Linked DNA regions of Homo sapiens. The protein of the gene in region 2 interacts with the protein of the main gene of each other region in a pairwise test. Each region holds a gene or a part of one and is shown on either strand. Other genes may lie near its edges.

Evidence for each region. Proteins that work in one complex are often made in the same cells at the same time.
Region 1: the proteins of MPPED2 (region 2) and FAM72A interact in binary tests that used the Homo sapiens proteins (3 or more experiments, as listed by UniProt).

The regions. Positions count from the first base shown.
Region 1 is NC_000001.11:206,199,711-206,207,989, reverse strand, and holds the start of FAM72A (protein FAM72A), read left to right. Parts: upstream 1-5,150; 5' UTR 5,151-5,964; coding exon 5,965-6,116; intron 6,117-8,105; coding exon 8,106-8,183; intron 8,184-8,279. Other genes in the region: SRGAP2 (SLIT-ROBO Rho GTPase-activating protein 2), read right to left, coding at 1,953-2,019. UniProt on the Homo sapiens protein: May play a role in the regulation of cellular reactive oxygen species metabolism. May participate in cell growth regulation.
Region 2 is NC_000011.10:30,491,996-30,499,558, forward strand, and holds part of MPPED2 (metallophosphoesterase MPPED2), read right to left. Parts: intron 3,527-7,563; coding exon 3,301-3,526; intron 1-3,300. UniProt on the Homo sapiens protein: Displays low metallophosphoesterase activity (in vitro). May play a role in the development of the nervous system.

The DNA.
Region 1 (8,279 bases), on a different chromosome or scaffold from region 2:
TATGATCCTGAATAGTATCAATGGGAAAATATCAGAGCAAAGCAAAATAGTCTGTTTGTGGCAAGGTTGAAGAGAGAACCCAAATAGCCGACTGCATTACATCATCTCAATGAGCAATGTTTGTAAATATCCAAAGTGTTTAATTTTGAGACACTCTTGAGAAATCCTTTGCCAATAAGAAATTGGCAGATATGGTTCTATTAACACCTATCAGCCTTGAACCTTCCAAAAATTAAACATTTAAAGTCACTTTGCACCTTAGTCAAATGGCGTGCTTCTGGAGAGAAATCTGGGAAGATCAAAGTTATTAACACTCCCGATGGCAACAGTTTAAGAATAGGATGTGTTAAAAAAAAAAAAAAAAAAAGACATATCTGGTTAAAACTGCAGGGGGGATTCCAAGAGCAAATGCAATGCATCTGGACAGGACATGGAGGCCAGTGGCCTATTGTTTACAAAAACAAGCCTGGATTATGAACAGTGACAAGAGGCCAAGACCTCAATAATAACTCACAACCACACCTCTCTCAATCCCAGTTCAACTGAAGCTATCAATCAGTCAACTCCCCCATCTCTGTAATAAACCTACCAATATTTGCAGCCAAGTGGATAGAAGGCCCCTTAGGGCACCTCCAGCACTGACCAAACTAATGACATAAAAAAGATCCTGTAGGTACAATGAGGACTTCAGACTACCTTCCAACCTTCCAAGAGATAAGGGAGCTGCCCATTTCAAACTCTACACCTACCCCCACCCCCCAGCAATCATTAGAGGGGAGCCATGGCCCTTCCCAAGTCCTCTCTGATAGGAAAAGGTCTCCTTGCACTGGTGCAGGGAAAGGAGGGGCCCCTCCCTCTGTACTCTGAAACAAAGGAAAACCCAGAGCTCCAACCATGTGGTGTAACATTCAAGGCCACCCACCTCTTCCACTCCCCAGCTAAGGTCTCAATGGGCTGGAGCCACATGGCTCTTTCCAGTGACTGACCAGGAAGGGACAGTGCCTTGCACAAACACATGCTGCAGCTCTTTAACAGGCAGGAACCCTTCCTATGGGAACTGCTGGTTTAAAAAACGCTATCTGAGTAAGGGCTCTTATTCATGAGTCAAGTCAGTCGACTAGATGAGAAGACAGGTCACTTGGTTTCTCCTAGTCCACATTTTGCTTTACCCTTCACATTTTTCAGGAGAGGGAAATGGGGCTTTAAAAGCATGTCTTCCGGAGCAGAGGGCCACAGCACAGAAGGGTTAAACAATTATGTCTTCCCATTTTCCAGAATCAGCACCAACCGGCTACCCTAACATCCTCCCAACTCTATTCAGATTTAGGTGAGGGCGGAGACCGGGCGTGGGTGGCCTTATTCTCTGATCTCTGATTGTATGCAGGCCGACCAGAGACCAGGCAGGTACAAGGTACACCCAAGGTGGCAATGGACTTTTGGTGCCAATGCCATTGCAAATCTCATGTTTTAATATAGTGCATCCGAAAAACCCCGCCTCTCCCAAGGCTCTCCAAATGGTACACCTTCCCAAGGTTGCCTTTCTGTCTGGACTCCTCTTCAATCTCTGAAACAAATGTCCAAACACCTGTCAGATTTCAGTTGTCTTTCAAGGAAACCTGACCCAGAGAACCGGAGGCAAACTGCCTTTCTCTAAGAGCCTCCTGCCCCTCCCCCCACCCTGTCCGGCTTGGGGGGGAAAGGGCTGCCAAAATCATGGTCAGCCCCACAAAGATACTCCTACAGCCCACTGCAAAAATTCCTTTCCAGTGTCAATGGCCCCCTGGCATTGCCCATCCTTTGGAGGTTCAGACCCATCTATGAAACCACCTCTGGGGTCAGCCTGCCCCCATCTGCTCCACCCAAAGAAATGAACAACCTGCAAATCACGGTGGAAATACACGCCTCACCAGTCCACAGAGCATTTGCAGTGTGCTATTTTTCAAAGCCCTTACCTTTGACCTGAGTATCGTACTCTGCTATGATCTCCTTATCCTTTTTGAATTTGGCTGGAGACGTCATGTTTTCCTTCTTTCTTCCAAATTCGAATTGTGAATTGATAGATCCACGGAAAAAATCCAACCACCTAAATCAATACCTCCAAGACCGCTTCTCTCGAGGGCAGAAGGGGCCCCCCACGGTGGTCTCCAGCGCTCCGTGGAGCGCGGGCTGCGGGCTGGGCAGACGGCTACGGCGGGCACATGCAGACGGTGGGCGCTGGGGCCGGGTGCGGCGGCGGCTGGTGCCTGTGCTAGAGCCGGAGCCGCAGCCTCAGCATTAGCCGGGAGAACTGCAGCGCCCGGAGGCTGGCCTGGGGTCTGACATCAACGACACAGGCGGGGAGTGGAAGTCCTTCCGCACAACATGGTGTGGGGCTGCGGGGGTGTGGACGCGCCCAGCTGTGTCCCCGGGAGGGAGTGGGTGCTTTTCGGGGTGCCGGGGGAGGGCTGGGCGTGCTTCGCGGTTTTTTGTCGTAGAGGCTCAAAGATGCTGCAAATCAAATCCCAAACGGGAGCCGCAACAGCGCAGACTGGATCGGAAGTCGTTTGCTCCGGTTCACTTGCCTGTAAATGCAGGAAAAGGGGGAGGGGGCGATCAGCCAGAGCGCAGATCCTAATCGCGGCGGGGGTGGGGTAGGGGACGTCGTTCCGAGCCCGCCCTGGGCCCATTCCTGTCCGCTTAACGTCTCCCCGCCCGCAGAGCCTGGCGCTACGAGGTGGGGAGGAAGGAAGCTCCCTCCGGATTTTAAGGCTGAAAGAAAACACTTTGGAGCAGCCGCCTGCGCGGGCTCCGGGCGGGGACTGCAGGAACGCGGGGCACCAGGCGGGGACTGCGGCACCTCGGCGGCCTCCTGAGCCCCGCCAGCGCTGGGCAGCGGCCAGCCCGAGGGAGCCCTCCCGACCTAGCCCCCGACGTGGCCCCAGACCCCCGGCCGGGGCACCTCCCTGTACATCAAAGGGGATCAAAGCCGGGGAGGGATAAGCCACCAGGGCACAACTTTTCTTCCTCTCCCGCCCCTCCTCCCAGTTGTTTTGTTTTTGGTTACTAGCTTCTCTTGGCAGCAAAATGTTGATGGGGGGGGGGGCAAATCTGCAGGAAAAAGCCTGCTCGGCACGGGACACATCCAGGAAAACAATGTGGTCAGCTGAAGCAGGAAACGGGTTAGAGGATAGGGTCGGAGCCGGGAAAACCGGGGGGCGGCGAGCGGAAGGCAGCCGTCGCCTCCCTCAAGCTAGGGACGATAGTGACTATAAATGCCACCCCCAATATTTTTTTGACACCCAAGCTCAGAGATCCCAGATATCCCACCCAATCCCAGGCTGGGGATGGGAGGAGGTCGGTGAGGTCGCAGTCCTGACTCCTCGCACCAGGCGGTGCCCGAGAAGATCCGGCCCCGGACGAGGCCCAGGGGGCTGGAGGGACGCAAGCGGGAGCGCGGAGCCCGGCGACTAGCTCCCTCGCGTGCCGCAGCGGCGACCCTTTCTACTTGGTCTTTCCTTTTCCTCCGAGCGCCGGGAGGAGGAAGCTCCCGCTAGCGTCTCCCACTTCCCGCGGCTGGAGGAAGGGGCCACGCTGAGGGAACAAGACAGGGAGCAGAGGCGGCGGGGTTCAGGCGAGCGGGAAGCGGGAAGCGAGAGGCGGGTGTGAGATGGGGTCCTGAGGCTGGAAGGGAGCCCGGGGACAATTGGAGTTGCACACGCTCGGAAGGCGGGAGGCGGCAAGGAGAAGGCTGCCTTAGAGGTGAGGGGAATTGGGGCATGATCATGGGCCGCGATGTTGCGTGAAGCGCAAGGATGTCAGGAACTGTGGGGGCCGAGATGTGGTCTAGGGATGGGAGTGGGCGAAGAGAAGTCCATCGGGGCGGGCCGGGGGGTGGGACTCGGGGAGAGCCCCGGAAGCTGCGCGGAACACCCATCCTCCTGGGTCCTAGGCTGGGACCCGGGCTGTCCGCCAGGGCTGGGAGACACTGGAGGAGGCCGGCCGATGATTACGCGCGATGCCAACGACGACTGCCCTACGGTGGACCGCGGCTGCCCGTGTGCGGAGGAAAGGGAGAGGCGGCTGGGTGCCGGCTGCGCTGCGGTCCGTGAGCCAGGACGGAGTCCCAGGCTGTACAGTGATGGGCGGAGAGACTCGCAGTCCTGAGAAGTATTATGGGCTGTACTGGGAGATTTGGAGAGGGTGGAGGGGGGGCGGTCTGAGGGATTCCGGGCGGCACCGCTAAGGCGATGCCGCGAGCAGCATCCGCGCCCTCTCCTTCCCGCCCCAGCCCCGGTTTGTTCAGTCAGGGCTCCAGCCCGGCGGCCGGGAGGAAGAAAAGGAAGAGGGAAGGAGCCTTTACCTGGCTCTGACGCGACGGGTCCCAGGCCCCCGGCTCCGCTTCCCACTCAGAGCTCTCCTCCCCTCTCTTCCCCGCCACCCGTTTCTACGCAGATCGGTGCCCCAGTCCCTGGAGGAGCCTCCGCCAACTCCGCAGGACCCCGCCGGGAAGTAGAGCCCACCCCTTTACCAATCACCGCCCGTTTTCTATCGACCGATGGGGCCCATAGCCAATAGGAAGAGCTGATCCCGAGAGGCCCGGAATGAGGGGGAGGAGCTGGCAAAACTTGGAGGTGTGACTAGCACTGCCGAGGCGTGGTCACAGATTAAGCTCCACCCCGGGTTGTTGAACCCCTAAGTAGAACTGATGGGCGGGATTAAGGTGGAACCGACGACCAAACACAAACTCTTGAGCTAAGGCACGGCCAATTGGGCCGGGGTAGAGAGGAGGGGTGTTGCGGGGAGTTTTAACCAATAAAGAGTAGAGACCGGTGGAGACTGTAGAACCTCTTCCAATAAGAAGCGGGAAGGGCGTGCCTTGCCACTTTCACTAGGGCGAAGGCAGGGTTTGCCGAAACCTCCCGAAGCCGGCCAATGAGATCGGAGGCGGAGCCAAGCTCAGCCAACCAGAAAGCCGAATTGATCTCAGCACCGTTACTGGGGCGGTGCCTACGGTCTTCAAGCCACTAAGCTCTCGTGAGGGGAGGCCCCGGAGCCTTCCAATGAGGGACTGGGGCTAACTCTAGTTCTTCCAATCGGTGCGCGGCGCTGGCAATTCAAACTGATACCGGGTTGGAGAGGCAGGAAAAGCGGAAGAGGGAGCGAAAACCAACGTGTTCGGTGACAGACCCCAGCGCCGACTGAGCCTCTAAAGCGACTTCAGCTCTGCCCCACCAACACCACCGCGCGCCCGGGAACAGCCGCTCCGGGAAGAAACCTGAGGGGACTGCGGGGGGCACGAGGGACAGCTGAGGGAAGGGAGGACGCGAGAGAAACAGCGCGAGCACGCTGAGGGCCGGGGGTTGCCAGGAGAGGGGCCCGCGGACCCGCAGAGCGGAGGAAGGTCCGGGAGAAAAGGGGCGGGACGGAGGAGAATCCGGGATCGCCTGGCAGAAAAAGAGAAGGGAGTTTCTGAATCCTGGGAAGAGGAGGCGTGGGTAGGGACGCTTAGCCCGAGATCCGACAGCAGGGAACCGGAGCGCTCCGGGGGAGGGGCTTAATGCTGGGGAAGGGATGTCTTAAAAGAGGAGAAGCTTTAAATTAGACGATCGGAGAAGGCTGAGGGAATTGCTATGAAGGGGCGGGAGCTGAAGTGTAGAGGACTCCTTTAGACAGCAGAAAGGGAAAGCCGTTGAGAAGTTCCCTTCAAACTCCACCTGCCTCCTCTCCAATTCAAACTCCACTCCCTTCTCCAAAAGTTAAAAGGAAAGCCAAGTTTGCCACGCTCCCCTGTTCCTACTCAATAAATACTTCTTCTACTCCGCCACCGGGAAAACAGAAAAAAAAACTAATTTCCTTCCCAATATTAGGACTTAGAAAAGCTCTAGGTCCCGCAATTTGAATTTTAGCCTAGGGGAATCAAAATAGTAGGAGCATTACTCTTGTTTCCTTTTTCAAAATCCCACACCTCATCCTTCCTGCGACGCCATGTCTACCAACATTTGTAGTTTCAAGGACAGGTGCGTGTCCATCCTGTGTTGCAAATTCTGTAAACAAGTGCTCAGCTCTAGGGGAATGAAGGCTGTTTTGCTGGCTGATACTGAAATAGACCTTTTCTCTACAGACATCCCTCCTACCAAGTAAGTCATGCTAGTGGCGGGCAACGGTAGCTTTTAACTAAATGGGAACACTTATGGCTTGGATCTGTGGGAGTCAACAAGGAGGTTATCATTTCGGTGTTTCAGCCACTCCCACCAGTTTGATGATCCCCTTGGAATATATCTAAGTGGGCAGACTGTCTGGACAAAGTCTGTGGTTTAGCCAAGGTGGTCAGTCCTGATGTAATGCTTCTAGTTCAATTGCAGTCATGCGACCACACATCTCTTAAGTTTGATCCCTGGTTCAGTGCCCTGCCCAACCATCCTATTTCACTGAATCAAGTCCGTGGCGTAGACTTTAGGTAAATTCAGGCAAAATTTTCCGTACTGTTGGAGAGGAGAGGTCATTTAAGTTTTTCATTTTTATCCATGAAATTTTGCACCAAAAAAAAAAAAATCCGTTTTCTATCATTATTTGCAATTGGCATCCTAAATCAGATCCGTTGTTCATCAAATTCAGTTTTCTTTCCTCAAAACTCTCTCTCTCTGAAAGAGATGTAAATAGATTTTTATGGGATGAAAAATAGAGACTTAGCCTTAATCCTTATCTCCAATAAAGACTATTTTGGACATTACACATTTGTTCCCATAATTGAACCCTTTTAAAATCTGTTTGTTTTCAGCCACTAACTGCTTTTGGGTGTAGAGTCCTTAAGAATTTGCTTCCTATTTGGTAAAATAGCCATTTTATTTGACTCAAATAAACCTCTTTCTAGCTCTAAATGGTACTTTCCCTTTCCATAATCAACATATATATGCCCTACATGAATCTTCAAAATTTAGTTATTTATTGAAATTTTATTATTAAAAGGAAAGTAATTATCCAAAATATGAGTGGACAGTTATTCTCTAAGTCTTTGGATATAGAGCCAGAGGAAGCAGGTTAATAACCACAATTCATTTTAAATGAATTTCATGATAATGATAGAAACTTTACAAGTTTTTTGATTTACCCAGGTAAAGCTGTGTACTCTTCCTTTCTTGAAATCTTTTCTGAATTGGTCTAAGTGTAATCATGTCTAACAGCAAAGCCAAAGGCTCTCATTTATTGCAGAGATAAATGTGTTATTTTAAAATCTTTTTAATTTTTTTAAATTCTAAGTTAATATTTTACATTTGTGTGTGTGTACATCGTATATGTATTTCAAAAAAGGGAAAACACTAGAAAATAAATCATAGAACCTACTGCTACAAAGTTCTGTGATTCATTGTCCACTGCTTTTTCTTTTTAGTAGCTCATACACAAATTTAAAATATTAACCCATTCATCTTTGCAATAGCTATGGTAAGTAATAGGGCAGTCATAAGGAAGGCTAGGTGAATTGTTACAGGTTAGACCCAAGTCTAGAATAGAATCATGTTTTTCCCATTTTCTACCCTTCTTTGTAGGGGTTAAAATAATAATGAATTAGCGTGCTAAGATGTATGTGAATCAATGAACACATAAAAATTTTTTTAATGGAAAATTTGTCAGATGTTTATGTTGAGCTCACAAATATGAACTGACTCTTTAAAAATATACTATAGTTCTATGTTAGCTTTCAGCTCTTTGGATTGACAAAATTTGTGCTAAATCAAGCGTAGAATTACTATCTGATCCAGCAGTTCTGGGTACATATCCAAAATAATTCAAAACTGGATCTTGGAAGAGATATTTGCACACCCATGTTCATTAACAGCATTATTCACAATAGCCAAGAGGTGGAAGCAATCCAAATGTCCATTGATTCTACAGATGAACAGATAAACAAAATGTGGTATAGGGCGCCTATAGTTCCACCTACTCAGGAAACTCTGGTAGGAGGGTCACTTGAACCCAGGAGATTCATTACACAGCAATGTGATTATATTTAGCACATCTGCTCTGCACACATAAAACTTGTTAAGTTGGTAAATTTTGTTAATTTTTTGCCACAATTAAATTTTTTGTAAAGTACATCTGACTGTCTTTTTATACCTTTCTCTCTCCAGCGCAGTGGACTTCACTGGAAGATGCTATTTCACCAAAATCTGCAAATGTAAACTGAAGGACATCGCATGTTTAAAATGGTAATTTGTGGCACTATTCTGGATAGCTCTGGGTTTGGAAGATGGATATTGACACCAAAGCATAGAGAAAGGTTCAGTGGGCTGCAACAAGGACTG
Region 2 (7,563 bases):
TCTCAACAGACTTAAGTCTAAGGACACCTTTAGGAGAACATTTCAGAAGACTGATTAGTGCTTATTTTCTTGACTTTGCTACCTTGCCAGTATTAAAATTAAAACATTTTAAATGATATCAATCCAGTTCAGATATAAACTTTGTCTGCAGTTTGCAGCACCACCAAAAACAGATCATGCCCTGCCACATCACATATCTGAATTAGTCTGTTTGTTCGATTGCTTGAGATGCTGCAAGATCTGCCTGAGGACCAAAATCATTCCCTCATTCATCACAGCTACAATCTAGTTTAGCTGAACCCTGTCCTAAACAGATTTGAATCAGCTCAGATAATGGAGGAAGTTTGTTGCTGTCATCATTTCAGCAACTATCAGTCCAGGGATTTCTGAACATCTGCTTGCTCAGGAATAGCCTTAAATGTCCTGTGCCTTTTAAGGATTTTTTCAAAAGTAATCTTAAATTATTTTTAAACAATGATCTTAACTTGCATGTAGAGCACCTCTGCCAATCAGAGGTCATTCCTCAACTACTGTACTGACATTAAGAACTGGGCTGTGAAGCTGGAAATGCTCTGTCTCCTGCCCTTTACCCAGAAATGCTAATATCAACATCCTACATGACCCCAGATTACAGTTTGACAGGACTGATTTCTGCTGTTTATTCTCTTGCCCTTTACCACGTTCTCACACATTAAAAAAATAAATTGACGTACCTTACTAAATAAAGCTAGGTATAAACTGGATCTGAGGATTATAACCACCAATTACCACATCCCAACCCCTGCCACCCCTCAGTCATGCTGTACACCCTGGAATCAGACTTGTCAGGTTCAAATCAGACCTCTTATTATCTGTGGCGATTCTTGAGCAATTACTTAACTTTTCTGCACCTGGATTTTCTTATCTGCCAAATGAGAATCATAATAGTGCCCATCTCCTAAAGGTATTTTGAGGATTAAATAAGATGACACGTATACAAAAAATGTAGGACAATGCCTGGCATATAGGAAGTACTTAATTAAGAGTTCAAAATCATTGTCGGGGTTGATTTTAAACAGATATGTACTTCCTGTACCCACTCACCAGTCCTTCTGGATACCAACTCGTAAAGCTAGAAAAAAAATTATAGAAAATATCTCGCACTTTGGGAGGCCGAGGCGGGCGGATCACGAGGTCAGGAGATCGAGACCACGGTGAAACCCCGTCTCTACTAAAAATACAAAAAATTAGCCGGGCGCAGTGGCGGGCGCCTGTAGTCCCAGCTACTCGGGAGGCTGAGGCAGGAGAATGGCGTGAACCCGGAAGGCGGAGCTTGCAGTGAGCGGAGATCGCGCCACAGCACTCCCGCCTGGGCGACAGAACGAGACTCCGTCTCAAAAAAAAAAAAAAAAAGAAAATATCTCAACCTTTTAACTTACAGAGGACAAGCCAAACTGTTGAGTAAAGTGACCAATCTGAATTCAGTCTGCTTGTCTTTTTCCAGTCCTATCCACAACTCCTAGTGAAGGACTGGGGTACTTTTCTGTATTAAGTGAGTAAAGGTGAGTTCTTCTGCTCTACATACACACACACAGGTTAGTTTTGCTCTATATACACCCTCAAAAAAAAAAAAAGTCCTAGAACCTGCTGATATTGACAATCATTTAGTCTAACATTCTCATTTTAAAGATAAAAAAAAAAACTGGCTCTAGGGCCTAAATGACTTGCCTAAGTTCACATAAATACTTAGTGGGAGAGCCCAAGGCCAGAAAAATTATAATTCATACCCTAAGCAAACTATCCGATATTCTCTTCAGTCCACTGCAAACTTTACCTATTTTATCCTTATCATAACCCTCTAAAATAGGTATCATCTTCACCATCTTAGAGATGTGAAAACTGAGGCTCAGACACTGTGAAGTAACTCCTTTAAAACCTGACAACTGTCAACTGATACAATCAAGATTGACACGCTTCTTGTCTGGCCTCCAAGGATACATGTACCTGTTTCAAGTTTTCCAGAGCTTAGTTCTGAGAATTCTAGTGCCAGCTCTCAACCAGTAACTTTCAAACCACCTGTGCATCAGTCTTGCCCAGGTAACTTTAAAAAATACAAACTGCTGGGCTTCATCTCAGGAAGGACAATCAGAGTCTCTGGAGGAAGGGCTTCAAAATCTATATTTCTACAGAGACGGTAATTCTGATGTGTAGGGAGGTTTGAGAAACCCTAATCTAAGCAAGATATTTTATGACTGCTTCCAGTACAAAATGAGAGGGAAATGAGTTACCTAAGGCTGATGGAATGTTCAGAGCAGCTGAATCTATGTGAAGGGTAGCATGGTGACCTCCTCTCAAATCCTTCTGTGTCACACAGACATACACCCAGCCCCAGTAACATAAACATATACAGCCAGCCCTCCATAATCAGAGGTTCCGCATCCAGGGATTTAACCAACCAAGGATAGAAAATATTAGAAAAAGGGCCAGGAGCGGTGGCTTATACCTGTAATCCCAGCACTTTGGGAGGCCAAGGCGGGCCAATCACCTGAGGTCAGGAGTTCAAGACCAGCCTGGCCAACATGGTGAAACCCCGTCTCTACTAAAAATATGAAAATTAGCCGGGTACAGTGGCATGTGCCTGTAATCCCAGGTACTTTGGAGGCTGAGGCAGGAGAATTGCTCGAACCCAGGAGGCGGAGGTTGCAGTGAGCTGAGATCACACCACTGCATTCCAGCCTGGGCAACAGAGAGATACTCCACCTCAAAAAAAAAAAAAAAAAAAAAAAGAAAGAAAGAAAGAAAGAAAAGAGAAGAAAAGAAAAGAAAATATTGGAAAAAGGATTGCCTCTATGTTGGATATTTTTTGTCATTAATCCTTAAACCATAAAACATAACAATGATTTATATCATATTTACATTGTATTATGTATTATAAGTAATCTAGAGATGATTTAAAGTCTTCACGAGGATGTGCATAGGTTATATGCAAATACTACACCATTTTATATAAAAGACTTGAGCATGATGGAATTTTATCAGTGGGAGGTCCTGGACCAATACCCCATGGACACTGAGGGAGGCATGACTGTATATATCTAGGAAAGCTTTAACTCCTATTGATCTTGCCTAAAGGGATCTCTATCACAATGAAAACAACAAGTGTTGCATTTTGCAGCAGTACAGTATGTATTTTGTTGGAAATACAGCAATAAGGTTTCCTTTCATCCTAATCATTTTCATTTAAAGCATCTAAATCTGAGCTGTGTTTTCTTGGTACTGAGCTAAAAAGCAATGTGGAAAACTGTTTGAATCATCACTTACCAAGGTGCACCGTATATCCTGAATCCCTTCACTGTTACCTCCGAATCTTGTAAGTAAATACTGTTTGTCAGGAGGGACTGAACATTGTCAAAGTCCTCTGGTTTCAATTTGGACACAGAGGGGAAACGGTAGTAGTCCTGTTTAACAAGGTCTGCCATGAATTCCTTATCAAATGTCAGTTCATGATTCCCAGCAATCACTATTTTATATTCATATGGCAGGTTTCCTGAAATAAGAAAAAAGAGCACCAATTAGCACGTTCATTTCCCATCACAAAGTACAACAGCCGAGACTGTGTGATTAGCAGACAGCTCACCCAAATGAAATAGCTCGCAAATTCCTTTACATTTCCATGTGAACTGGAATTTATGACTACTACTTTATGCTAACAAAAATGACAATAACGGGAAATAGGAAGCTGCTAAGTAGCTAAAACGTTGCTAAAAAGACATTAAGTTTTCTAGTTCCATTTCCCTCTTCTGTATGCTATGTATTCATTGTGATGAATCCACAGGGTAATGAATCCACACTTTATATTTATCCAGTAAAAAGCTCTTTAATCACGATCCTTAAGAGAAGGTCTGTACCTAGTTTGGTCCTCAAAACATAATCTAACCAACTATTCTTAACAACTTAGATAACTACTAGATTTTTAGTATATGCTTCATACTAAAGACATGGCATAGTCAAACATTCCATAATTGACATACATTAAAGGAACCAGATAGTATAATTTCATATTTCAACTCTAATTTTAAGTTTCCTTTTTGGGTTGTGAATAAAAAGAACATTAGTAAGGGCCCCCTGATTAGAAGGCTAACTTTCCTCCTATTGGGATGGGAGAAGAAACTGTAAAGTTTAACCCTCTTTTAATATTTATGGTATGGAAATGTGAGTTCTCAGTGTGTGCTTTTTATGCAAAAGTTTCCTGATCAAAATGAGATAATTCTGGGAAGAAGAATGAAAGCTATAAAGGAAAACCCAAACACCAGACTTCTGCATAGATTTATAATGTTTGAATAAAGTACGGGTCATACATATTAATAACTCACCGTGATGCTATAAGAACGAAAATCCAAAGGGAGATAGTGCCGGGCAGCTGTCCCCACCTGAAATTAATGTTCTTTTCCTTACTCTGTCACTACCCATCCCTCAAGCCTCACTGTTCATCTGCTGCTTTTTATTTTATTTTATTTTGGAGGAAAAAAAGAGTGGGACAATGGCACCTATAATTCCAGCTTTCTGAGACCTATGGGTCTGATGTGAAATTAATGTTTCCTGCTATTCCAGGAAGAATTAAAGTTACCACTAGCAGGAAATTGGATACACTTGTTGTAAGAACTGGTCCTTACCAGCAAGCCAGAGTCTCAATGATTTCATTAAGGAAACTTAGTGGGGAAGAGAATTTTGTGGGCGGGGGGTGGGGGGAGGTGAGGGGAGCAAGTTCCATCGTCAGTCCACTTGGATTTCAGCAATTCAAACTGTAAAGATTACATTGTGAAGTCCACACAGTCTCAGCAGCACATCACAAACATATTTGCTAATATTGAAGCAGTTTTTAAGACTGCCAAACCATGTTTTGTATATTACTGCCTTTTCTTTAGTTATTAATTGTTAGATTTCTGACAATAATAAAATTGCATATATAGCAAGGGCAATAATGGGGAGGCTTAAGAGAGAGATGAAAGCAGTCTGATAGAAAATAACACTGCAGAGAGAGGAAACCAGAAACGCTGAGGCCAAGCAGCAATGGATATCTTTGACTACTAGCCCACAGTGCTGTATGTCACGTCTTTGGCCTCAGTTATTTGTAAGGCTATGCTGAAGAGTTCAAAAAAGAATAGGAAGCCTCCCTCAAATGCATGTTTATGCGAATTTGGTAATTAAGAGTATGATGTACATAGCAAGTTGTTTGGATAGAATGGTGGTATCTTGCACAATTCCAGAACTTCAAGTGCAGATGAAAGATATATCAATAGGGCCACAAATTCCCAGTACTGCACATGCTGGAAATTTGTGAGAGACCCTACAACTCTAATATCATGGCTCTGTGACCCTATGAGTCTAATAGTGCTCCCCGCCCCAATTCACCTGTGCTCCCAAAGCCGGAACAGGCTAAAACGTTTTCCCAGACAGCAATGTCTTCCAAGGCCGGTCCTTACTGTGTGATTCTTAGAGCAGAAGATTTTACCTGTACAAGTCACACTGTAGTTGCCCAGTTCCCCTTTAATCATTCACGATGATGGGACTCACTGTAAACCCTTTCATTATGTGCCACCGCTCTTGCAGGAAGCCTGGGTTTCTCAATTTATCCTCGTTTTAGGGCTCGGGTTCAGGGACAGCGTGGGTGAGACTAGCCACTATGGCAAAGGAAGTATATTTTCCCCCTTCAGACTGGGTTTTTCCTTTCTTTCTTTCTTTCTTTCTTTTTAGTAAAACTGCTGCAAAGTAAATCTTTCTCAGAAAGACAAGCATCTTTGGTGTCTTTTAAATCAAATTTTGGAGACTCAGCATAAAAAGGTAGCCACCAAAATGAAGAGCCACAAAAAAGGTGATGATATTTACACATCACCAACAAACTCATCTTTTTCCGAGAATCCAGTAGTAGCTTCCAACTTCTATCCTCTGTTACCGATGTTATGAGATTGTCTGACATATTTTCTTTTTTGCTGAACTGACCTTTCATCTATAATCTGCCAACCTTTATGTTTTATATGAAAAGTGTAAACAGGGCAGCTGACAAATCTCCTGTTACTTGACGGCATTTTCGTTGTTTTTTTTTTTCCAGACTAGATTAATTGGGAAGGCCCTGCAGTCAAGCTTCAAACTTCTTGGTATTCAAATAGCAACACTTTAAAATTGTCAGGCAAAGAGGTGCCTGCCTTTTTCCATTTTATTCAGATCATGCCAGCTAAGCTGACCTGCTTGTATAAAAAAAACCAAGGCCATATATATACTCTAACATGGAAAAAAAATCCTTGCTCTGAATGACCCAAAGAACTCTACCAGCCGGGCACGGTGGCTCACACCCGGAATCCCAGCACTTTGGGAGGTCAAGACAGGCAGATCACCTGAGGTCAGGAGTTTGAGACCAGCCTGGCCAATGTGATAAAACCCTATCTCTACTAAAAATACAAAAATTAGCCGGGTGTGGTAGCAGGAGAATTGCTTGAACCCCGGAGGTGCAGGTTGCTGTGAGCCGAGATTGAACCACTGTACTCCAGCCTGGGTGACAAGAGCAAAACTTGTCTCAAAAAAAAAAAAAAAAAGAACGCTACCAACCAACCAGTTTCATCGTTCCCAAGGCATGGTCTATGTTCTACTAATGGTACACAAGATTATTTTAGGTGAAATGGAAAGGAACCTTTGACAAAATGTCAAATAGTTTTGTATTTTAAAACTACTTTTAAGAATGCATTGTTTGGACAAATACAATATAAAAGTATAAGTAATGATATATAGCTTCCTTTTTTCTATCTTTATATGTAAAATAAGAGGTAATTTCAAGAAAATTACTGAGCAAATAGTAGAGGTAACTTACAGGGACAATAAAGTGACAATGGTAGGAAGTGAATTAATGAGATGTGGAAAACTTGCTCATCAGTTCAGGTTAGAGCTACAGAATGTAAGTGAGACCATAAAAGAGGCAGTTATTTGAGTTTTATCTATTCTGTATCTTCTGCACTTAGTGGTGTCACATAAGTAGATACTCATGAACTGAAAGTCAACAGGGTCCTCGCTGCTACTTGACGTTCTAAGTGCCCCACACTCCAGCCACTACCTCCCCAAAGCAGCCATCACAAAATTTGTCCAGGTTCCTCTCTAGCTCCCAGGCTCCAACTGAGCCCCTCTCCAGACATGCAAAATACCCTCTAACCACATGTGTACAGAAGGAGGGAGGTTCTCTTCACTTCTGCCTTTTCACTTTCCCATCACACCATCTGTTTGCATCTTCTTATCTTTCTAACAGAGGTTGAGCATCCTTTATCTGAAATGCTTGTGACCAGAATCATTTAGGATTTTGGATTTTTTCAGATTTTGGAATATTTGTGTTACACTGATTGAACATTCCAAATCCCAAAATCCAAAATCTGAAATGCTCCAATGAACATTTTCACTGAGTGTCATGTCAGTGCTCAAAATGTTTCAGATTTTGGAACACTTTGGATTTTGGATTCTCATAGTAGGGATGTTCAATTTGCAAATTGGCCTCTTAATCTGATTCCTCCCACTCCCATAAGCACCTTCCTTTTCCAGGCATCT